2 separate regions of the Homo sapiens genome follow, and region 1 is linked to region 2. The links come from fine-mapping of genetic effects on gene expression. A gene starts in region 2. The other region holds a variant in brackets. All regions are shown on one strand. Distances are between the middles of the regions.

Region 1 (4,392 bases), 180 kb before region 2:
AAGTTGGACAACTCCAAGTGTTGGTGATGATCTGAGGCAAAAGGAACTCTCCTTAACTATCAAGAGGATTGTAGATTGGTACAACTACTTTGGAGAACAATTTGACCTATTCAGTAACATGGAAGATTTTTGAAGAATTATGAACCAACGATTCGACTCCTAAAACCCTACCCAAAAAAACTCTCAAACATGTGTGCAAAGGTACACGTAGAAGGATATACACTGAAGTATTTTTTTTTTTTTTTTGTAGAAGTGAAAAATAAGAAACAACTGTTCATCTTGGAGAAATAAATTCTGGTACATTCAGATATTGGAATGCTATACCAAGGAGAATTAAATAAAGTTATAAGGCTGGGTGCAGTGGCTCATGCTTGTAATTCCAGCACTTTGGGAGGCCAAGGTGGACAGATCACGAGGTCAGGAGTTCAAGACCAGCCTGGCCAACACGGTGAAACCTCGTCTGTACTACAAATACAAAAATCAGCCAGGTGTGGTGGCGTGTGCCTGTAGTCCCAGCTACTCGGGAGGCTGAGGCAGAATTGCTTGAACCTGGGAAGTGGAGGCTGCAGTGAGCTGAGATTGTACCATTGCACTCCAGCCTAGGCAACAGAGTCAGACTCTGTCTCAAAAAAATATATATATATATCTATATATATATAAAGTTACAAGTATCAACATGGAAGATCTCAAAAAACATAATGTTGAGGGAAAAAATGAAATTACCAAAGGACACAGAAAGTAAAAAATAAATTCTATAAAGTTTAAAAATATGCAAAAGGAATTTCTTCATGTCTAGAGATTCATGCATACACTGTAGAAGTATGAAGACATGCATGGAAACAATAAACAACAAAGTCAGGAGAGCAGAAAGGGAGAACTGGAACAGAATTGGAGAGTGGAATCAATGTTTTATTGTTTAATCTGGGTGGTAGATACATGGGTTTTTATTAATTATTTTCTAAACCTTGTTTAGGTCTTAAATATTTTATACCAAAAAAAAATAGTAAAGCAAAAATAAGGGGCGAGAGAAAAAGAAACAGAAGAAGAAGGGGGAGAGAAAATAATAAGGCACTGTGGCCAATGCCATAGATGAAAATATTCAAGGGAAAATGACCCAGGAGAAGCACCACCAGAAGCAGTCATTGCACTGCGGTCATCATCGGTAAGAAAACACACTGAGATGGCTCTCAATCTAAGAATGGGAGACTTGGGGAATTCTTTTCTGAGAGATTGGTTTCTTTTTCTTTTCTTTTCTTTTTTATTGATTTTTTTTTTTTTTTTTTTTTTTTTTGAGACAGGGTCTTGTTCTGTTGCCCAGGCTGGAGTGCAGTGGCACTCACAGCTCACTGCAGCCTTGACCTCCGGGGCTCCATCCTCCCACCTTGGCCTCCCCAGTAGCTGGGACCACAGATGCACCACAACACCTGGCTAATTTTTTTAAATTTTTGTAGAGATGGGAGGTCTCTCTACGTTGCCCAGGCTGGTCTTGAACTCCTGGTCTCAAGCAGTCCTCCTGCCTTGGCCTCCCAAAGTGCTGGGATTATAGGCATGAGCCACCGTGCTCGGCCTGTTTTCATTTTTTATAAGTTGAAAAGCAGGGGTCTACTCAAAAAATTTTGAAGATAAAGGAGACCATAAAATTTGTTCTCAATTTTTACCAGCACAAAAATCTTCTACCAGTCTGTTTGCTTTGTGTGGAAAGCAGAGGAAATCCAAGTTTTTTACAGCCCTCCCCAAATGTGGAGGAGTCTAACCTGAGATGAGGACAGCTGCTGGGAGGCTGTTATTGAATCACACTCTGAAATGGCAAAGGCTTGAGGATCTACGTTATCCGTCAATCACAGTCAGAGCCCTGGAAGGGTGCTAACCTGCAGCTGGTGGGTCACCAGGACGACCGTCTTCCCCCTGAGTGTCTTCTTAATGCACTCCTCAAAAATGTGCTTCCCCACGTGGGCGTCCACAGCAGACAGGGGGTCGTCCAGCAGGTAGATCTGACGGTCGGAATAGACGGCGCGGGCCAGGCTGATCCTCTGTTTCTGCCCCCCAGAGAGGTTGAGGCCCCGCTCTCCAATCTGCAGACAGGCAGTAAAAGGCACCATGTCCAGACAGCAAGCACAGCCAGGTGTGCTCAAATGGGTAGGCAGATGTAGCAGACAGAACCCCCTCAGTACAGACCAAGATATGCACACACTCCAGGATACCTGATAATTTGGCATTCTGGACTTAAAAATAC[A/G]TATATATCTCACTCATATGTGGGAGCTTAAAAGCTGATCTCGTGGAGGTAGAGAGTAGAATGATGGACACCAGAGGCTGGAAAGGATTTTTGGGGGTAGGGAAGGGAGGTGAGAATGAAGAGAGGTTGGCTGATGGATACAAACATCAAGTTAGATAGAAAGAATAAGTTCTAATGTTTGATAGCAGAATAGGATGACTATAGCTAACAACAATGTATTGTATATTTCAGCAGAGCTAGTAGATAGGATTGAAAAGTTCTCAGCACAATAGAAATGATAAATACCCTAAATGCCCTGACCTGATCATTACATATTCTACAGATATAACAAAATAGCACAGGTACCCAAAAAACATGTACAAATATTATGCATCAATAAAAATATTTTTCAAAACGTGGTTAGTAGGGGATGAATAAATTGCTTCTCAATTAATTAAAAATCTTACAACTCTCCATGTATCCCCTGAATCTAAATTTAAAGATATATGACTTTTAAAAAATTGTAACTCTTACTTAGATACAATTTTTCTAAACCTATCAACTTCTAGGAGGCAAACATTAAACTATTAAAAATTCAGATAATAAAATAAGTCACTTATTCCCAAGTCAGAGCACTGTCTCACATATTATTCTGGTTTTATTTATTTGGTTTTTTGAGACAGGGTCTCCTCTGTTGCCCAGGCTGGAGTGCAGTGGCACCAGCAATCATGGCTTACTGCGACCTCCGCCTCTCAGTCTCAAGCGATTCTCCCATCTCAGCCTCCTGAGTAGCTGGGACTACAGGCGGTGCCATCACACTTAGCCAATGTTTTTAAACCTTTTTTTTTCTTTTTCTTTTTTTTTTTTTTTTTTGTAGAGATGAGGTCTCACTATATTGCCTAGGCTGGTCTCAAACTCCTGGGCTCAAGCAATTTCTCCCACCTTGGCCTCCCAAGGTGCTGGGGTTACACTGGACCTGGCCTTATTCAGGTTTTTAATCTCCATTGACAGCACCTGTCAACTTGTGGGACCATTGGCCTGGGTTACAGGTGTCGTCAAAGACTATTTGCACTGTGTGCACCCACTCAACAGACCAGAGCTACAATGGCTGCAAGGAGCTTTACTGACGCTGGAAGGACCATCTCACACGGCACCTGCTGTGATAGGAGTTGAGGGTGGAAACCCAAGTTACTGAGCATGTTTTGCAGATTAGCACTCCAGGCAGCTGCCAGCTGGCCCATCCCTCCTTGAGGCTCTGAGGAAGTGGGAGCTGGAGTGTAAGTCCTAGTTCCTGTTCTATCCTGACTGCTTGAAGTCTCTGTAGAGAAGAATCAGAGTTGAAATGGTGGCAGAGAAAACTCCTGTCCCTGCCGTGCTTCCAGGTCACCACTGTGTGACCTTGGACAACCTGCTTGATCTGGCCAAAGCCCAGTTTCCCCATTCATTCATTTACTTATTCATCAAACACTATTCAATGCCTACTGTGCTCTTACAATAATAGTTAACACTTACTCTAGGCCGGGCACTAGTCAAAACACTTTGTATTAACTCATTTAAACCTCAAAGCAATCCGATCAGGTCAGTACTCTTATTTATGCCATTTTACAGATGAGACCTTGTTCTTCCTATTGAAGAAACAACCTTGAATAAGATCATTGAGCTCTCTGCCATCAAGGATTTATAGTCCCAGCTTTAAAAGAAGAAGAATAGGCCAAGCGCAGTAGCTCATGCCTGTAATCGCAGCACTTTGGAAGGCCGAGCTGGGTGGATCACATGAGGCCAGGAGTTTGAGACTAGCTTGGCTAACATGACGAAACCCTGTCTCCACTAAAAATGCAAAAATTAGCCGGGCCTGGAGGTGCATGCCTGTAATCCCAGCTACTCAGGAGGCTGAGGTAGGAGAATCTCTTGAATCTGGGAGGTGGAGGTTGCAGTGAGTCGAGATCGCACCACTGCACTCCAGCCTGGGTGACAGACAGAGAACAAGACTCCCCTTCAAAAAAAAAAAAAAGAAGAAGAAGAATTAAGAGACTACCCTCCTGAGGTTATTGAGATTATCGTGACTCTCACCTAAGACACTACATTCAAGTCACTAGAATAGCACCTTGCATGTAGTAAGTGTTCAACAGACTGAGATATTATTAGACCATTAATATCAAGAAGGCAATGCCACTTTTATC
Region 2 (4,392 bases):
CTAAACTTTGTTACCCTAGTTATGTAAGATCTGTTTTCAAAACACCATACTCACTGAAAATCCTATTTGTTATTTTATGTCATTACTGACATAGCTAGATAATTCCTTCATAACTCCAATTTAACCTAATCATGCTTTTTAATTACAGATATTAAGAAAGAATATTTCTCTACAGCAATTTCGTAAGAACTTCCCGAAGCTTAGAGGGAATAGATTAATATTTAACAGATGTAAAATGCATTAACATTGTTTCTGAATTTGTACTTTGTGGAATACTTATCCTGAAAAGTTATCAGTTTCACATCTATTATACGTATTTCAGTTTAAAATATTAAATGTTAGTAAATTATGTTGGAAAGATGCCAATAACGAAAAAAAAACTGTTTGGCATAAACTTTGGGGAACAAATTCTGGATATAATCGCAACTAACCATCCAAGATTACAGAAATCTGTATCTTTATTTAAATTTTCAGAATGAAACACTACACAACCAATTTGTGTAATCTACTTTGAGTCTCAAGATCTACCAGTCTAAAGTCCTCCTAACAACTAATTAAAATCCTCTCCACCATAATTTGAGCCAACAACTCCCAGATAAAATTACCAGACCATTACATTTGCCACCACACTACATTCTGCTCTTCAGTAACTTCTAAAAGTGATGGTAACACCATAGATACACACTCAAGTATTCACTGTCCCACTTTTCTAAGTTGGTTAACTCAAGTCCTTGAAAGTGAACTGATCAATAAATCTAAACTAGCTAAGAGAAGACCTCATTTTAATCAATTTGATTTTTTTTAATCACAAAGATATAGCCATTCAAATCCCCGGCCACAGCAATTTCCAAAATGCCACCATCTCAGAAAGTCTGTTAATTTATCATACAAATCTCCTTGTCCTTTTTAACAACAAAATGCATTGAAAGAAAAAACCCAGCACTAAAGATCTGTGACCTGATTTCACAAATTCTGGTCTATGCACTTTCATCATACCAACACATCATGCCAAGAAAACCTCGTAAGTTTAGCTATTAAACTACAGTCTTAACAGTAAGCATTTGTTGAGAACTTAGTATGGGGCTGCCACTGCTTTCAGTCCACCTATTGTCATCTCATCAATTCTCAACAGGGCTTGAGGTAGATACTGTCGTTACACCCATTTTGCAGATAAGGAAAGCGAAGCACAGAGAAGTATCTGCCCAAGGTCACAAACCAGTGGAGCAGGATTTGACCCAAAGCAGACAGTCGGACTTCACAGCCCGTGCTCTCAACATCCAACTGCTGAAGAGTTAACAATTTACCCTTGACAGCCGCTATAAGCAAAGGTAAATGCTCAACTGCTAGGAAGGGACAGTCAGAACACCGTCCCATATCCAGTATCCATGTCTCTCTGTTTGTTTATGGCCTCTATGACTTTGGCAAAAGAAGTACACACAATCTGATTTTCCGAACACCCAAGCTGGACTTTTCTGAATGTCCGAGCAAACAAATTATGTATCTTTCCAGGAACGGGCAGACAGCGAAAACGAACCTACGCATCGGAGTGGCCCAGGTTATTCACTTTAAGTTATAAATTTGGGAGAGTTAAGAAAGGACCCCAAACTACCCGGCAAATGAACCCTAGGAAATGCCAGGTTTATAATAAGCTAGAGCTTCCCCGGCACGCCGTTCACGCGCTCTCCTCTCTAACGACATAAACAAGGGAGGAGGCTGCATTCTTCCCACTGCACAATGAAGCCTCCGGCCGAAGCGGCAGGAAGAGCGCAGCCCCGTCCCGGACGGCTCCAGCCGGGGGTCGGGGGCAGAGAGCGGAGGCCGAGGCCCGCCGAGCGGCGCGGTGCGGCCCGGGCCTCCGGGCGCCGCGGGGAGGAGGGGGAGGGAGGGCAGGGCCCCGGCAGCTGCCCGCACTCAGCTGACCTCCGCCATGTTGGCCGCACACCCCGGGACCCTCCACAACAAAGGCCGGCACGAGGGCGCGGGGCGCGCCGGGCGCCACCCCCGGCCGGGCCCGCCTCCCGGGCGCGCGGGGGCCGGGCCGCCGCCGAGGCCCTTCCCCCGCCCTCGGCCCGGCCGCGCGGGGCCGACCCCCGCCGCCACCCCGCCGGGCCCGGGGCTCCAGGGGCGGGGGCGAGCCGGCTTGCGAAGGCTGAAGGCAGGGGAGGGGCGGGGGGCGGCGCTCGACCGGGCGGCCCGACTCCGGCCGAGACAAAGGCGCCGCCGCGCCGACTACTGCCCGCGCCCCGGCCGGGCCGCCCTTCCCGCCCTCCGCCATTACCGGGCCTGGGCGCCCGCCTGTCGGAGAGCCCCTCGCCGCCGGCTCCTCCCTCAGGCCGGGCCCCACTTACCTGTGGGCGGAGAGCGCGCCTCGGACCCCGGTCCTGGCACCAACGCGCTCCGTCGCCAACCCCCGCCACCGCGGGCAGCGCCACCGCCTCTTCCCGGCGCCGAGACCGACGGGACACCCTGGGCCGCCGCCGCCTCTCGAGAGCGCGCCCCGCAACGGCCGCCCCGGCTCCCCCCTGGCCGCCGCCGCCGCCGCCGTTTCGCGCGTCCTCGAGCCCGCCGCGCGCCCCCGCTAAATACCACACACTGCGGCGGCGGCCATGAGGAGGCGCGGCCCCGCGCGCTGGGAGCCTGGGGGGGCGGGGCTTTCGCGGGCGCGCAGGCGCACAGGCGTTGGCGCGGCCGGCGGCGGCCTCCGCGGGCGTAGCTGTGCGGGTCTCCAAAGGCGGCAGTAGGTGCGGGGGCTACTCGGCTACCGTTGCTGCGCCCGTGCACCGCGCATTCAACGGATCCTGGCACGTGGCGCTCTGGCCCGCGAGAAGCTAGCGCTTGCCCGTCGGCTCAGGGCAGCTCCTCCCGCGGCGCTTTGTTCCGGGGCCGCGTGACCCCCCCGGCTCCGGCCGGAGGGGTCGCCCAGCGGGATGCGAGCCCCAGGCTGGCCGCCGCCGCGGCCTTGTGCCCTCCCCCTTGTTTTGTCTGCTGATTTAGCCCAGCGCCTCCACGGATCCTTCCCAACTCCACTCAGTCCCAAAGAAAAAGCGGCTGCCCTGCCCGCCGACCGGGACCCCACCCCTAAAGAGAGTCCCAGCCTCTCCCGAGGTTGAGCCGCTCCTCAGCAACAGCGGGACGAGCTTCAAAAGCTTGTTTCAGCTGAAAAGTGGGTAATGGGGAAGCACGCGTTTTCCTGTGTCCATGCTCATCTGGAAAGTCCCTAATTAGGGACTCTGCATTCCACTTCTTGAAATAATAAAAGGAAAACATCACTTGCAATTCTTTGATGGGTGCTATGAGCAGAAGCAAGCATCTGAGACATTTACAAGCCCTAACTGGAATTCCATGTAAGATCTATTAAAATGGTATTCCGTCCGGACGCGGTGGCTCACGCCTGTAATCCCAGCACTTAGGGAGGCCGAGGCCGATGGATTACCTGAGGTCAGGAGTTCGAGAGTAGCCTGGCCAACATGGTGAAACCCTATCTCTACTAAAAATACAAAAATTAGCCGGGCGTGGTGGTGCACGCCTGTAGTCCCAGCTACTCGGAGGCTGAGGCAGGAGAATCGCTTGAACCCGGGAGGCAGAGGTTGCAGTGAGGCAGAGATCAGGCCATTGCACTCCAGCCTGGACAACAGAGCGAGACTCTGTCTCAAAAAAATAAAAATAAAAATAGAAAAATCCCATACCGGGCACGTATGTACAAATTCCCAGTGTATGATAAAGTTTATATGTGCAAAACACTAGTTTACAGTATTCCTAATTACATGATTTAAACTGCAATTTTACTTTCACATTTTTGGGGAGAAGTTATAGCTCCTCAGTACACGGGAAGGTCAATAGAGTTCGGTTCACTTCAGTTTAGAGGTAAATTTTCCATTTTTACAGACTATGTGCTTGGCATAGCCATGTGGCCTTGACCTGGTCGTGAAGGGCAGAGGAGTTCTGTCCTGGGCGAGGAGCAGCTCTGGGGTGAGATGTGTTTCTCGCCCCCAGAACCCCTGGGCCGCTCTGCAAGCAGTGAAATGGATACGGACTAAGAGAGAACTTGCCAACGTGGCGATTAAAGTTCTAAACACCCGGCTTTGCCAAAGTCAGATTTTGTCCTCCTTATCCCGCATCCCTTCCTCTACCCAACAGCATTTGTCCATCTGAAAATAACAGTCTGTCTCTGGCCCACTGCTGACAGTCGAGGACTTACCTTATAAACTAGTGGATTCTCTTAAACTGCAGGGGTGCCCAGGACACAGTGTCCCCTGAGGATGCCGCACACCAGTCTTGAAGTGCTGGATCGTTGACGTCAGGCACCCAGAAGCAACTTCTGCCTCTGGAATTCTCAAACGTGCTTTTCTTGGCTTAGTTTGTGCCTGCTCTCCTCTAGAAGAGTCCAAGTTA

What was found. PIP is the estimated chance that this variant, and not a neighbour inherited with it, causes the effect.
Region 1: its variant is the best candidate, but not a certain one, in a credible set for the expression of SIAH1 in whole blood (INTERVAL, PIP 0.64).

Annotation. Positions count from the first base shown.
Region 1 is chr16:48,198,408-48,202,799 of GRCh38, forward strand. It overlaps ABCC11 (ATP binding cassette subfamily C member 11), which reads right to left. Exons shown (of 30, transcript NM_001370497.1): 15 at 1,869-2,072. Among named protein-coding and RNA genes, the nearest start is that of LONP2, 44 kb to the right of the region's middle. The variant A/G (reference allele first, on the strand shown) is at 2,234.
Region 2 is chr16:48,382,856-48,387,247 of GRCh38, forward strand. SIAH1 (siah E3 ubiquitin protein ligase 1) reads right to left here and starts at 2,558. Exons shown (of 2, transcript NM_003031.4): 1 at 2,349-2,558. RefSeq lists silencers at 1,637-1,906, 1,997-2,066, 2,167-2,986.